Homo sapiens: one gene and its partner. The protein of the gene in region 1 interacts with the protein of each later gene in a biochemical or structural test. Each region holds a gene or a part of one and is shown on either strand. Other genes may lie near its edges.

The links. The genes of interacting proteins can lie anywhere in the genome.
Region 2: of the proteins of KLK5 (region 1) and FLG, one has a biochemical effect on the other in vitro, tested with the Homo sapiens proteins (one study listed by IntAct).

Annotation. Positions count from the first base shown.
Region 1 is NC_000019.10:50,943,033-50,950,058, forward strand, and holds the end of KLK5 (kallikrein-5 preproprotein), read right to left. Parts: coding exon 6,823-7,026; intron 6,084-6,822; coding exon 5,827-6,083; intron 5,742-5,826; coding exon 5,608-5,741; intron 755-5,607; coding exon 599-754; 3' UTR 271-598; downstream 1-270. UniProt on the Homo sapiens protein: May be involved in desquamation.
Region 2 is NC_000001.11:152,322,215-152,329,855, forward strand, and holds the start of FLG (filaggrin), read right to left. Parts: upstream 3,026-7,641; 5' UTR 2,975-3,025; intron 1-2,974.

The sequences.
Region 1 (7,026 bases):
TGGAGGTTGCAGTGAGCCGAGATTGTGCCACTGCACTCCAGTGTGGTTAACAGAGTGAGACTCCATCGCAAAAAAAAAAAAATAATAATAATAAATAAATGAAAATAAAAAATAGCCACCTGGCCAATATTTATGAAGAAGGTGAAAAGTAGTCTGACTGGACCTCTGTTTCTCACAACCCAAGTGACCTCATAGACAAAACACATGAGCCTGGAGGCGGAGATATGACTTGTTCACAGCCACCCTGCACAGGGAGGAGACACAGGAAGATTCCACTTCTCAGTTTATTTCTGGGACTAAATTTGGGTCAGAGCTGCAGAGAAGGGATGGGCCCTGAGCTTGAGGATGAAAGTGCCCCAGGGAGATTGAGACGCAACCCCCGCCCTGGACAGTTTTGGAAATTGTTCCCAGGGTTCAACTAGAGAGACACGGTCAGCCCAATGTGGGGGAAGCAGACCCTGAGTCCAGGAGACATGGGGTCAGGGGCTGGAGAGATGAACATTCTCAACATCTCTGGGAAGGAATGAGGGTCTGAAAGGAGTGTCAGGGCTGTCCCTGCAGCAGGTGGGGATGCCGGTGTGCTGAGTCCTGGGATGACTCAGGAGTTGGCCTGGATGGTTTCCTGGATCCACTTGGTGAACTTGCAGAGGTTCGTGTAGACACCCGGTCTGTTGGGCCGGGCACAAGGGTAATCTCCCCAGGACACGAGTCCCTGCAGGGAGCCATTGCAGACCACAGGCCCCCCAGAATCACCCTGCAGGAGAGAAAGGGGGGCATGAGAGAGGCAGAGATGTGGCAAAGTGGGCAGAAGGAGACATGAGAGACCCAGAGATGCCCATAGATGGAGAAGCAGATGGGAACAGACACACAGAGATGGAAAGTACAGAGATGAAGAAATGCAGAAAAAGACAGAGATGGAGACACAGGCAAAAGGAGAGAGAGGGAGAATGTTATTAATATTTCACTCCAAATCCAGCTTTTTTTTTTTTGAGATGGAGTCTTACTCTGTTGCCCAGGTTGGAGCGCAGTGGCCTGACCTCAGCTCACTGCAGCCTCCATCTCCCGGGTTCAAGCAATTCTCCTGCCTCAGCCTCCCAAGTAGCTGTGACTACAGGTGTCCATCACCACACCCGGCTAATTTTTTGTATTTTTTTTGTAGAGACGGGGTTTCACCATGTTGGCCAGGCTGGTCTCGAACTCCTGGCCTCAAGTGATTCGCCCACCTCAGCCTCCAAAGTGTTGGGATTACAGGCGTGAGCCACCATGCCTGGCCTCCAAGTTCAACCTTTAGACCCCATTTGTCACTCTCCACTCCATCTTCCTCTTCCAGATTCCTGTTGTCCACACATCATTTCGGGGGGGTCTGTGACCCTTCCTCTCCACATCTCGAATCTTCGTCTCTACTTTCTGTTCCAGCCTGTCTCCCTCATCGTGTATCTCTCCGCCTCCCTTTCTCTCTCACTCTCCCCTCCAGCCTGTGCAGGCCTTATTTCTCTTACTGGACACACACCTTCCTTCCCCATTCTCCACCAACCCATCCTTATACCTCCCTTCTGCAAAAATACGGTTCTCAGCCCCTGGATGAGGGTTCCTCGATCTGGGCACTGTGGGCATCTGAAGCTGGATAATGGTTTGTTGTGGAGGCCTGCCGTGTGCATCATAGCATGTTGAACAGCACACTTGGCATCTATCCATTAGTTGCCAGTAATGCCCCTCCATATAGTTGTGACAACCAAAAATGTCTCCTGGTATTGCCAGTGTCTTCTAGGGGCAGAATCACTCCCAATAGAAATCCATTCGCTTGGACTAATTTGTGTTTCCTGTCTTCAATTCCCCATACCTCCCTATAATTACCCTCCTATAATAATACTCACTGCTCTTCAACAGTCATTTTTTTCCCTCTTTTCCTTCTTTCCTTCCTTCCTCTCTCTTTTCTTTCTTCTTTCTTTCTTTCTTTTTCTTTCTTTCTCTTTCTTCCTTTCTTTCTCCTTCCTTCCTTCCTTTCTTTCTCCTTCCTTCCTTTCTTTCTCCTTCCTTCCTTCCTTTCTCTCTCCTTCCTCCCTTCGTCTCTTTTTTTTTTCTTTCTGACAAAAACGTCTTGCTTTGTCACCCAGGCTGCTGTCTGGAGTGCAGCAGTGCAGTCATGGCTTACCGCAGCCTCAAACGTTTGGGCTCAAGCAATTCTCCCACCTCAGCCTCCCAAGTAGCTGGAACTACAGGTGCAAGCCACCACACCCGGCTAATTTTTTTTTTTTTTAATTTACTACATATTTATCTATCTCTTTATTGCCTGTCTTCCACTTGGGGAACATGAGGTCCACGCGGCAGGAAGTTTTTGGTCTGTTTTGCCTGATGCCATATCCACAGCACCTGGAACCATTCCTGGTGCAAAATAGCCACTCGGCTAATATTTATGAAGAAAATGAAAAGTAGCTTGAGTGGACCTCTGTTTGAGGTAGAGAGAAATGTCTATCTCCCACCTGGGCACGGTGGCTCACACCTGTAATACCAGCAATTTGGGAGGCCGAGGCAGGCAGATCACTGGAGGTCAGGAGTTCAAGACCAGCCTGGCCAACATGGTGGAACCCCATCTCTACGGAAAAAAAAAAATAGCCAGGCATGGTGGTGGGTGCCTGTTATCCCAGCTACTTGGGAGGCTGAGGTGGAAGAAATGCTTGAACCCAGGAGGCGCATGCTGCAGTGAGCTGATATGGTGCCATTGCACTCCAGCCTGGGTGACAGAGCGAGACTCCGTCTCAAAAAAGAAAAGAAAAGAAAAGAAAAGAAATAAATATGTACATACTACAATAATGATGTAAGTGGTATGAATAAAATCTACTAAAATAAAAACAATTAGTATTTTTATTTTTTTAATTTTTAGTTGCCCAGGCTGGTCTTGAACTCCTGAGCTCAAGTGATCTTCCCACTTCAGTCTCCCAGAGTGCTGGGATTACTGGCATGTGCCATTGCACCCGGCTTCATTTCTTACTTACATGCATGCAAAATATGAATTACAGAGTCCTGGTATCAATTATTAGGAAAGCCAAGACTTGCCTTTTTCCCAGTAGCAGACACTGTTTCAAAGCAAACAAGCTTAGCTGCCTGTACCTCTAAATTTCAACTTTCTTGTGGTTTAATTTCTCTCATTATTTTTTAAATTTAATATCTCTGCAGAGTTTCTTTTGAGAGGCTGTTAGTTAACTGCTCTGAGCCTTGGCTCCTTGTTTGTAAAATAGGGCCAATAATAACAGGTAAATGAGTTAATGAGCTGAGGCATGCAAACCACTTAAAACAGTGTCCAGCAATTAGCCAGATGCTATTATTTTTATACTATTGGTATTAGTATTGTTGTAGTTGTTATTATTTCTTGCTTGTAGCTTTTAGTGGCCACACCCAGACCACACACCGGTATGAAAAAACAAACAAAAAAACACCTTGAGGTCTGGAAAAACAAGATACTAACCTTGCCTACAGAAAGGCTAAATAGTTTTAAATGCCACCACTTGAATGAGATGTGATTTCTTTTCTTTTCTTTTTTTTTTTTTGAGACGGAGTCTCACTGTGTTGCCCAGGCTGGAGTGCAGTGGTGCAACCTCGGCTCACTGCAAGTTCCGCCTCCCGGGTTCAGGCCATTCTCCTGCCTCAGCCTCCCGAGTAGCTGGGACTACAGGCGCCTGCCACCACGCCCGGCTAATTTTTTGTGTTTTTAGTAGAGACAGGGTTTCACCGTGTCAGCCAGGATGGTCTCCATCTCCTGACCTAGTGATCCACCCGCCTCGGCCTCCCAAAGTGTTGGGATTACAGGTGTGAGCCACCACGCCCGGCCGAGATGTGCTTTCTTCTGTTAAAAGTTTTCCCCCTCGCAACCCACCCCCCCACACCCAGGGCACAGAGAAGAAATGGGGAGAGCTGGGGAGGTGTTGCATTTGTCAGGTTTGTACAATTTGGGGGGAGCTTTTCATAGCCATGGGACTGGAGTACTCCTGAATCCCCAGCTTCCTAACTACTGTTGAAACACACACCCTGCTAATGAGAGCTTGTTAACTTACGTCCTTCTAGATCCCTTGGGAGCCTGAATACAGAGAAGGGTGCTGGTTGATGTAACAGTTTGATTTTAAATTCTGTCTTCCTCAACAGATACAGCTTCCATTAGAACATAGGGAAGCTCTGTGTTGGTGACCAAGAAATACTTGCAGAGCATTCGCCCCTGCCTACACCTCCAGCGTCACTTTCTACTGTTGCCCCCACTTTTGTTCTCCAGTTGCATTGGTTTCCTCTTCTTCTTTGAATCAGCCAAATTCCTTACTGCCTCAGGGCCTTTGCACGTGCCTTTTCTTTCCCCTTAAACTTCACGAGTTTAGCTTCTTTGTGTCATCCATTCTCTGCTCAAATGCCACCTCTCCAAGGAGGCTCCCCTGACCACCTTTTTGAATATTGGCCCTTATTGTTTACTATCCTAAAACCATGTTTTATTTTGGGGTTAACCTTTACCACTCTCTGAAATTGCCCTATTTATGCAGATTCTTGACCACAGAGTTTTTTATTTTTTAACTTTGTTCCTCCAGCCCTTCCAGCAGCTTTGCAATTAATCCCCTGTATTAAATATTCTCTTGTAAAAATACCTACCAGATTTCTCTTTTCCTTCCTCAAGATATTTTACCAGCACTTGCTAGAAAACTGTCATATTACAGATTTTGTTGAAACAAGACACTTAACTACCACACGCCTGAAAACTGCCAAAACTGACATCTGTAACACGGAGTGCCCCTATTAGATATGGTATCTTTATGCAGTGCACAACCTGCCCAACCATACAAAACAGCCCTGATCTTTCCCTCTAGATCCGTGCCATCCAATACAGTAACTGCTAGCCACATGTGGCTACTGAGCACCTGAAATGTAGCTAGTCCAAATTGAGATGTGCTGTCAGCATAACATATATACTCACTTTCAAAGACTTAATATGAAAACAAGAAAAGAATGTAAAGTATCTCATTCATAATTGTTTTATATTAATTACACTTTGAAATGATTGTATTTGGGATACATTGGGTTATTAAAGTTAACTTCACCTGTTTCTTTTTTACTTGTTTTTTTTTTTCTTTTTGAGACAAAAGTGTCACTCTGTCTCCCAGGTTGGAGTGAGTGGCACGATCTCAGCTCACTGCAACCTCCACCTCCTGGGTTTAAGTGATTCTTGTGTCTCGGCCTCCTGAGCAGCTGAGATTACAGGCGCCCGCCACCATGCCAGGCTAATTTTTGTATTTTTTTTTAGAGACAGAGTTTCGCCATGTTGGCCAGGCTAGTCTCAAACTCCTGACCAAAGGTGATCTGCCTGCCTCAGCCTCCCAAAGTGCTGGGATTACAGGTGTGAGCCACTGCGCCCAGCCTTTTTTACCTGTTTTAATGTGGCTACTAAAAAACTGGAAATGACATAAGCAGCTCAGCATTATTTCTACTAAACACCACTACTCTAGGGTATGAGCTCTGTGAGAACAGGGGTCCTGACTGTCTTGGCAATTGCTGGATTCTCAGAATTTGGCAACGCTCCATGTTACCGAGTTGGCACTCAGTGTGTATCTGCTGAATAAAGAGAGGTGTCCTCACCTGGCAGGAGTCTCTACCTGCTTTGTCACCGGCGCAGAACATGGTGTCATCTATCTGTCTCGGGTAAGCATCCTCGCACCTTTTCTGACTTAGCACGCTGATATTCAAGCACTGGAGGACCTTAGGGAAGTGCACTGTCAAACAGGAACACAATGAGAAGTGGAGAAAGATGGAAGGCGGCAGAGATGGGTCGGTATCAAGAAGAACCTGGACACTCACCTTGGGGGCTCTTGGTTGTCCCCCAGCCAGACACCAAGCACTTTGTCCCAGCAGAGGGACAATGAGAGGAGACGTTGATGGGTCTGACATCTTTAGTGGGACGAATTCTTCTGTTCAGTTTGATGAGCATGAGGTCGTTAGAGTGGCCAGGGTGGGAGTAGCCAGGGTGGGGGATGGATTTGACCCCCTGGAACATCTGCTGCCCAGATTCATAAACTGGTGACAGGGAGTAGTGGCCGAGACGGACTCTGAAAACTCTGAGGAAGATGGGGCAGGTCACCACCAACCCTGATCTCTATCTCCACGTCCAACGCCAATCCCAACCCCACACCCAGCCCCAGCCCCACCCCCATCCCCACCCCCGGTCCCCAAACCATCCTCAACTCCCTCTTGGTCTCCAATCCCATGCCTGTCCCCATCCCAGTCACAATTCCAAACCCATCCCATTCCCAACCCTAATTCTTTCCCTACCCAGAAGCCATCACCATATGCATTCTCAAGCCCAAATCCAACCATCTCCAACCCCACCCAAAACTCCAATCCCCATCCTTCATTCTATATCTGCTCCCAATCTCAACCCTATCTCCATGCTATCTTCATTTCCACCCCAGCCCGATTTTCACCCACCCCCAATTCTAAAGCCAATCCCAATTCCACCTCCATCCCAAACCATTCAACAAATATATGCTCCTAACCCCAAATCCAACCCATCCTTGGCTCCTTCCCATTCCCTACCACAACACTCTCCCCTCTCCAACCTCATCCTCCCACCTTGCTCCCCCGCAAAACTCCATCCTTAGTCCTATCCCCAACTCGACCTCCTCCTGCTCCCACATCCCCAACCCATCCCCACCAACCCTCACCTTCCATGACACCCCCAACCCCACTTCCCCGTCCCCACCAGCCCTCACCTCCATGACACCCCCACCCCCACTTCCCCACCCCCACCCCCACTTCCCCGTCCCCACCAACCCTCCTCTTGGAACTCCCACTCACTTCTTCCTGCAGTGGGCGGCCGTGAGCAGCCACTGTGGATGCACCAACACCGCCCCGCAGTAGAGCTGGTTGGGCCTTAGCAACAGCGCGGCCTGCCACGGCTGGGTGTGCATATCGCAGTCGGATCCATTGATGATGCGGCTGCTGCTGTCATCCGACCGGGCGTCTTCCCCGGCCCCAGCTCCCAGGTCCTGGTTGCTCCCA
Region 2 (7,641 bases), on another chromosome or scaffold:
TATATACTATGTATAGTATCATCCTATTTAACATTGTACTAAAAGTCCTAGCTAGAGCAATACGTTAGGAAAAGGAATTAAAAGCAGAGTAATTGGAAAAGAAGTAATAAAACTGTTATTACTCACAGAATGATATAACTTTTGTATGTGGAAAATCCAAAAGAATGTATAGCTAAACTATTAGAATAAATAAACTAAACATGCTTCTGGTTATAAGTATACAAAAATCAATTGTATTTCTATATAACAGCAATAAACACTTAGAAAATGAAATAAGAAAAGATGCTATTTACAAAAGCATAAAAAAATCAGAAAAATTTTAGGAATAAATCTAATTAAAGATATGAAATGGCTGTACTCAGAATATTATAAAAGTTGAGATTATAAGTGCTGAGAAAATGAAATAGGAAAGGAGGCTATTCATAAAAGCATAAAAAAAGAGGAAATTTTTAGGAATAAATCTAAGAAAACATGAAAGAGCTATACTCAGAAAATTATAAATATTGAGATAAAGATTTAAATAAATGGACAATATATAGCTTGTTTATGAACTGAAAGTCTAAATAGCATTAAGATATCAAATCTCCTTAAATTCATTTATAGATGCAATGAAATCCCATTCTGAATATCTGAAGTTTTTTTAAAAAATAAAGATTAATAAGGTGATTTCTAAAATTTATATGAAAATGTAGAGGGCTAAGATTAGGTAAGACCATCTTTAAGAAGACTAAGTTGGAAGACATACCAGATAGCAAGGTGTGTTATAAAGGAAGAAAATATGGCATGATGCAAGGCTAAACAAATGGAATGATAAAAGATAATAGTATAAAGTCAGTCTTATATCACTCTGGACATTTGGTTAATGGCAAAGATGGTAGTGTAGGTCAGTAGAGAAAGAATAGTCTTGAATAAATGGTGCTGGGTTAATTGAATTTTCAAATGGAAAAAAAATAGTTTCCAGGTTGATTTTACATGTAAGAGATAAACGAAGATAACATTGGAGAATATCTTCAGGACCTCGGGGTGGGGAAATACTTAAATAAAATTCAAAAAGTACTAATTAATAAGAAAAAGACTGATAAATTGTACTGCATTAAAAGTAGGAATGTTTATTCTTTTAAAGATAGCATTAGAAGAGAGATGTACAAGCCACACAGTGGGAGGATATACAAAACACATTTAACCAATAAAGGAATCTGTCCTGAATATAAAAATAGCTTCTATAAATCAATAAAAAATACAGTTAACTCAATGGAAAAATGAATACCTTAGGAACGTTACAGAAAAGGATATCCAAATGGCCAATAAACATATCAAAACTTCTCAACCTTGTTATGCACTAGGGAAATGCAAATTGAAATAACGTGTGAGACCTCAATACACCCACCAAAGTGACTAAAAAGATAAGAAAGAAAAAAATCCTTGACAATACCAAATATTGGTGAGAATGTGGAGAATTGAGATTTTTTTTTTTTTTATGTACTGCTGGAGGCACATAAAGTGACAGAAGCACTTTGGAAAATTGTTTGACAGTATCTAAGTCCTAGCGATTTACTCTTAGGAATATTCCCAACTGAAATATGTACATATGTGTAACCAAAAGTAGTACACAAAAAAGTGCATAGCCCTATTATTTATAATACCCCCCAAAATGGAAGAGACCCAAGTATCTACCCATAGACAAATGGATGAATAAATTGTTATATTTTCAGATAACATAATAGTCAGTGTTGGGAGATGAAGGTAGACTGGACTAGGATGATAATGGCAGAGAGGGGGATAAATGGATAGATTTGGCAGGTTTGTAGGCAGAGTTGACTGGACGTGGTGATGAATCAGTGTGATGAGAAAACAGGAATCATGGATAACTTCTAGATTTTGGTATGAGCAAACAGTTATTTCTCGTTATTTCTATTATTTCCATCATCTTTCACATAAAAGAATGCAGTCTCTCCCTGCTCCTGCTCTTGCCTTCCTATATTCCTGTTTTCCACGTAGCAGCCCAGAGTGGTCTTTTAAAAACATAGATTATCTTACTCCTCCTGCTTAATACCCCTTTAAGTACATGCTAAAATCTAACATGTACTGTTTTAATTCTACTGTGCCCCTCTTTACATGAGCTACGCTGTCTAGCTCTCTGACATCACCATATACCACTGGTCCTCTTTTTAACTATGTATGCTCTAAGGCACACTAGCTTCTTTTTGCTCTTTGGGACAAGTTTACTCTTGCTTAGAATCTTGCCCTTTGCCTTGGCTAGTTTCTTTTGTGTTTAAGATCTCAACTCAAAGATAATTCCCTAGAGAGGTCTTCCCCTGGCCATCTAATTTAAAGCACTTTCCTCCTCCCTCCCATCACTTTACTACAAGCTTGTCCAATCTGTGGCCCAGGACAGCTTTGAATGTGGCCCAACACAAATTTGTAAACTTTCTTAAAACATTACGAGTTTTTTTTTAAGCTTATCAGCTATTATTAGTGTCAGTGTGTTTTATGTGTGGCCCAAGACAATTCTTTTTCCATTATGACCCAGGGAAGCCAAAAGACGGGACACCCCTGCTCTACTACATCACTCTTTTATTTTCTTCATTGTTCTTATCACTATTTAAAATTATCTTATTTGTTTATTGTTGTTTACTAAATGTTTCCCCCTATTAAAGGTAAGCTGCTAGGAGTTTATATAGTTCACTGCTGCATAGATAGAGCCAAGACCAAGTAGAAGGTAGTTAATACATATTTGTTAAGTAAATGAATAAATGGACAATCTAACAATACAGAGTATTGAGTAGCTCCATGGAAAGCAAATTTATGCCCTCATTTTCCTTCTATATAGAAATAAACCTTTTAGTGACAGTGCCACTAAAAAGAAAGAGAAAAACCCTAAACTTCCAGAACCTTTTGCCTTACAGTACACATACATTCAGATTTCCACCTTGGTTAATAGTAAGTAGACAAAATTAAATGTATTCCTTCTTACCTTGTTCACCAAAAGAGCAAATAGAATGTAGCCTGAAGGAGCCTGCTGGGTACTGAAGGCTGAGATAATGGCCCTTTTATAGCAGGCCCCATGCAGGGAGGAGCCACCCTCTGTGGGATGGTCTGATTCATTCCTAACCAAACCTAGATCCACCCATATCTCCACCTCTATTTCTCCAGCAACCTGTGTTTACTTCCCAGCTTCCTCACGTACTCATCTGTACTTGTTTCAGCAAGTTCCAAATTTGGGTTTACATATTGGAAATTTTATGGAAGGGTCCCTTTGGCTAATACAGGTTGTTTGTGTGCAGGGCCCATACCTACTTTTCTGTAACCCCACTTTGGCTTGACAGGTGCTTGGTAAATATCTATTGATAAATACACTTCCTGATCCTTGTCTCTAGAAGAGTAGGACATATTAATACGTTTATAAGAACTTGAAATTCAATTTATGATAGGAAAACATCACAAGCATCTACATATATGTTCTTTTTTAATCTATGTATTCCATCTTTGGGTACTGAAGAACTTGCCATGAGATGAATGCCGTCTTCTAGAAATTATGGTCAGTAGAGGATAGGCAAATTTAATTTTAATTTTTCAAAGCAGAGCAAGAATGTGAACAATTGAACTAGAAGTGGTGATCACTAGGAGCATGAGTTTAATTAGGCAAGACTCATTAGTGTAATTTTACTTTGTTTTCAAGGTTATTACATCGTGGCATCAGAGACATGTTCCACATACTCTTCCTTCTTAAACCATGAATTTTCTTTTATTGCCATAAATATACAGGGGACTCCTATCCCTGGTCTGTCTTATGATATACACACTGTTATGTTGAGCAGATTGCATCTCCATATGGATGTCCCATGGTTATCTCAATCCATAGTGTTGAAAACTGAACTTACATTGTGCCTCCTACCAAAATGTACTATCCTCCAGAAGCCCATATATTGGTAATGATGCCCCCACACACTGGGTGTCTCAAGCTAGACAAAGTCATTTTCATTTCTCCTTTTCCTTAACCCCTCATGCTCATGTCACATCGTATCAATTATACTCAGGCTTAGATTTTGTTATGTAGGCCTATTCTCTACCTCCAGTGCTATAATTTTAGTTCTGGACCTGACCATCTTTCAATTGGGTATTGGTAAAGAAAAAAAAGTGTCGTAACTAGCCTCTCTCTCTACTATTAAGCTGGCTTACCATCTTATGTCATTCGCTGTGCTGGTTTCTTCTTGCCTGCAGAATTTCAGACTTTTTTACCTGACGTACAAGCCCCTTTACAATAGGCATGAATCTGTATCTTTTCAATTGTCCCTCTTATTACCTGTATCTCATGGAAAAGTCACTCTAGAATGAGCAATATTTCTTGGACGAGCCCATATTGGTCCACTACTGTTCAAAATCTTTGCGTGCTATCCTCCACTACCTTGACTTGAGAGACCCTCATCCTTAACTTCTCTTTATCTTTTAAGATTCTTCAAAATTACCACCTCCTGCATAAAGCCTTACCTGACATCTCCAGATTTATCAGTGTTCCCTCACATACTCTGTATTTACCTCTCAATAGCACTGGTGATATTTTATATTAATTACTTATTTATATGTGTGCCCCCTGCCCCCTGGTGCCTTGAATCCTGTGTTTCTTCTCACCCTAGCATTGACTGGGTCTGAGTCATCCTTTGTGTCCTTGGGCCCTACAGCAATGCCTGGGACATGATCAAATAAGGGATGCAAGGGTGTGCCAATCTTGTTCAGAGTCAAAGAGATAAAAATATGCCCGAGTTTTTAAAACTGTGTTTAATGTCCTCGTTCTTAACCTTATTAGACCATTGATTCTTTCTTTTGTGGAGTATTGGTTAACATCTGTAGAACACAGATATTCATTTTCTCCTTTTTTCTTCTTGGGTCTAATTTTTTTATGCCAGTAGTTATTGCATTTTTGTCTCTACCATGATGTAATAATGATAGTAATCTATATTGTATACCCATTATGTGCTAGGAATGTGCTAAGATTTTGCGTGTATTAATTTTAATCATCAGGACAACCCTTTGAGGTCATTATTATTCCTCTATTTTAGAGATGAGGGAACTGATACTGATAAGGCACCCAAGGTCACCAAGCAAGTAAGTTACAGAACTAGGATTTAATCTGAGGTTATTCAGACTCCAACTCCCACATTATTTCCACCATGGCATATTGTTCTGGGTGTGAACTTTTATCCTTTTTTTGTTAACCTTATTTATATTTTTAATGTTTTAAACAGTGATTTCTCTCAAAGTACCTATGTCTGGGTGAACTTAACTGTGGAAATCATTGCAGGATCAGCAGAAAGACTAGACCATGGACTATGAGTGAGTGAAGAAGGTAGCATTGAGAGAGTGTCAAGAATGAGGCAATCTTGGATATGACCTTCTTTGGGGCCAAAAGACCCCAAATCTTGCAGAATTATGTCAATATGGAGGGTATTGTTTAGTGGTCTGCTCTAGGACTTTTTTCCTGACCATGTTGTGCTCATTGTATTTTATCAATAACTTAGGTGAAAATTTGGATAGATGGCAAATATTTTTAGGATAGACTGAGGATTCAAGAAGATTTTATCATGTTGCACCAATGGCTCAAATCTGATAAATGAATATTATTGAAAAAGTAAAATTCTGACTCCAGTTCCAAATTACACTTTACAAGGATAGGGTAGAAGACATGAGTAAAAAAAGCAATATTGTGGCAGTGGCAGAGTGATGCCATAGCCAAAAAGATAATGTGATATTAGGCTGCATTAAAATAAACACATTAGCTGGAACAAAATAGGTGGTGAGGTACTTGGCTCAGCATTTATCAAACTATTTCTGTAGCTCTTTGTTCAGTTCTGATGACCATTTTTCAGTAAGGATATGGACAAATTGGTATGTGTTCTGAGTAAAGTAGATAGAATGATTGTCTAGATGAGTGGCAAACAGAACTCAGTGGGATGGATGGATGGATGGATGGATGGATAGATGGATGGGAGATGCAATATCTGTCTTTGGCTATATGAGTGGCTGTTATATAGAAGAGGGATTATACTTGGACTATATAATCTCAAGGCAGGTAGAACTCAGATAAATATGTAGAAACTATAAGAAACCATGTTTTGGCTTTATGTAAGTGACGACTTTTTAATAGAATTGTCCAAACATGCAAATAATTATTTTTGGAGATAGTGAGTTCCCTATTATTGCCTAGAGAATTTTGAACTGGATGGAATCTTGGCATCAACTAGTTTAATCTGCTCACATTGTAGCTGAAGACTAGAAGGACCAATGTGGTATGGCTAGTAAATTAAAAAGTCAAGGCCCAGGCCTCCAACTCAGGGCTTTTCACTCCAAATCCTCTTTATGTTGCATCAGGTTGCATCAATTACAGGGAGATGAACATGAGACAGGGATAATTAGGATGGGAGTTAGGTAGAGGAACATTGGGTAGATGTCTGATAGATGCCCTTTTCAACCTGACAGCTACTATTCTATGATTGAAGTACATTTCTTTGCTTGACTCAGCTCAGCTCAGTTCAAATAGTTATTTGATCTGTGCAGTTTAATAACTGCAGGGGTAACATTATACTGCAAACAGGAGGATAGTTCTTGGGTTTTCATGCCCCACTTCCTGCCAGTCTGGCTGATCCCACTTGCATGCTAGCTTTTTACCCTCAGAATCTCAGGAATTTTTCCCCCTAAGTCTAAGGAATTTTTCCCCCTATTCAAATTCTTTGCTGTTGAATAGTGAACTCTGAGATGTGGCATGTCTTCTTATCTCCAGAGAGATCTTATTCTCCATATCATTGTTGCCACATAATGAAATGCTTTCAGTGGTGTTTTAGGTGTCTGTGGTCACATATTGCGGCTGCCAGCATTTGCTAAGGAGTGAAGGGAACTCCCCCAAGGCAGGAGTTATTGACAAATAATAAATTACAGGATTTCAATTATAATCATTCAATTGCTTGTCCCTCCCTTTTCCTACCCAGTAGGCTGGAAAGGCATTGTGTTGCCATCTGGCCTCTGGGCTGCTGATGTGGGTCAGGTTGTCACAATTCAAGGATCAGCCCTTTGAGATGTGTGACTGAGGCTGTAGGAGTGAAGGGGAGTTGGAATTTGTGGTTAAATGATTTCCTACAGGAGCTGTAGTCATCTTTTGGGAGGTGCTGTTTGGGGTTAGAATTTTTCCAGGTTGAATATTCTCTTGAATTCCATGGCATAGTTGAAGCTGATATTCCTGCTTAGTTAGCCATAGAGTGGTGGAGCAGTATCTGGCTAAAACACTTCCACTTGCAGCTTATATTTGCCAGGACAATGGTGATGGAAAGGAATCTTGATCCCAAGCAAACAAAATGTTCGAATTACCATTGATGCCCTCAGATGCTGCTTTCTTTATAGCCAGTCTCTCTTTCTCTCTCTCTCTCTCTCTCTCTCCCTCTCTCTCTCTCTGTGTGTGTTGTGTGTGTGTGTGTGATAGAGACAGAATGAGAGACAGACAGAAAGACAAAGAGAAGGAGGTAAAGGATGTAGAAGGAATGAGTGTGAGTGATAATAAGGCTTTTCCAGATAAAAGCAGGCCATTTTATGGCAATATGGATTGTCTTTCAGTTTTTCCATATGCCCAACATTTTCATTCTCGGGTACTCATTA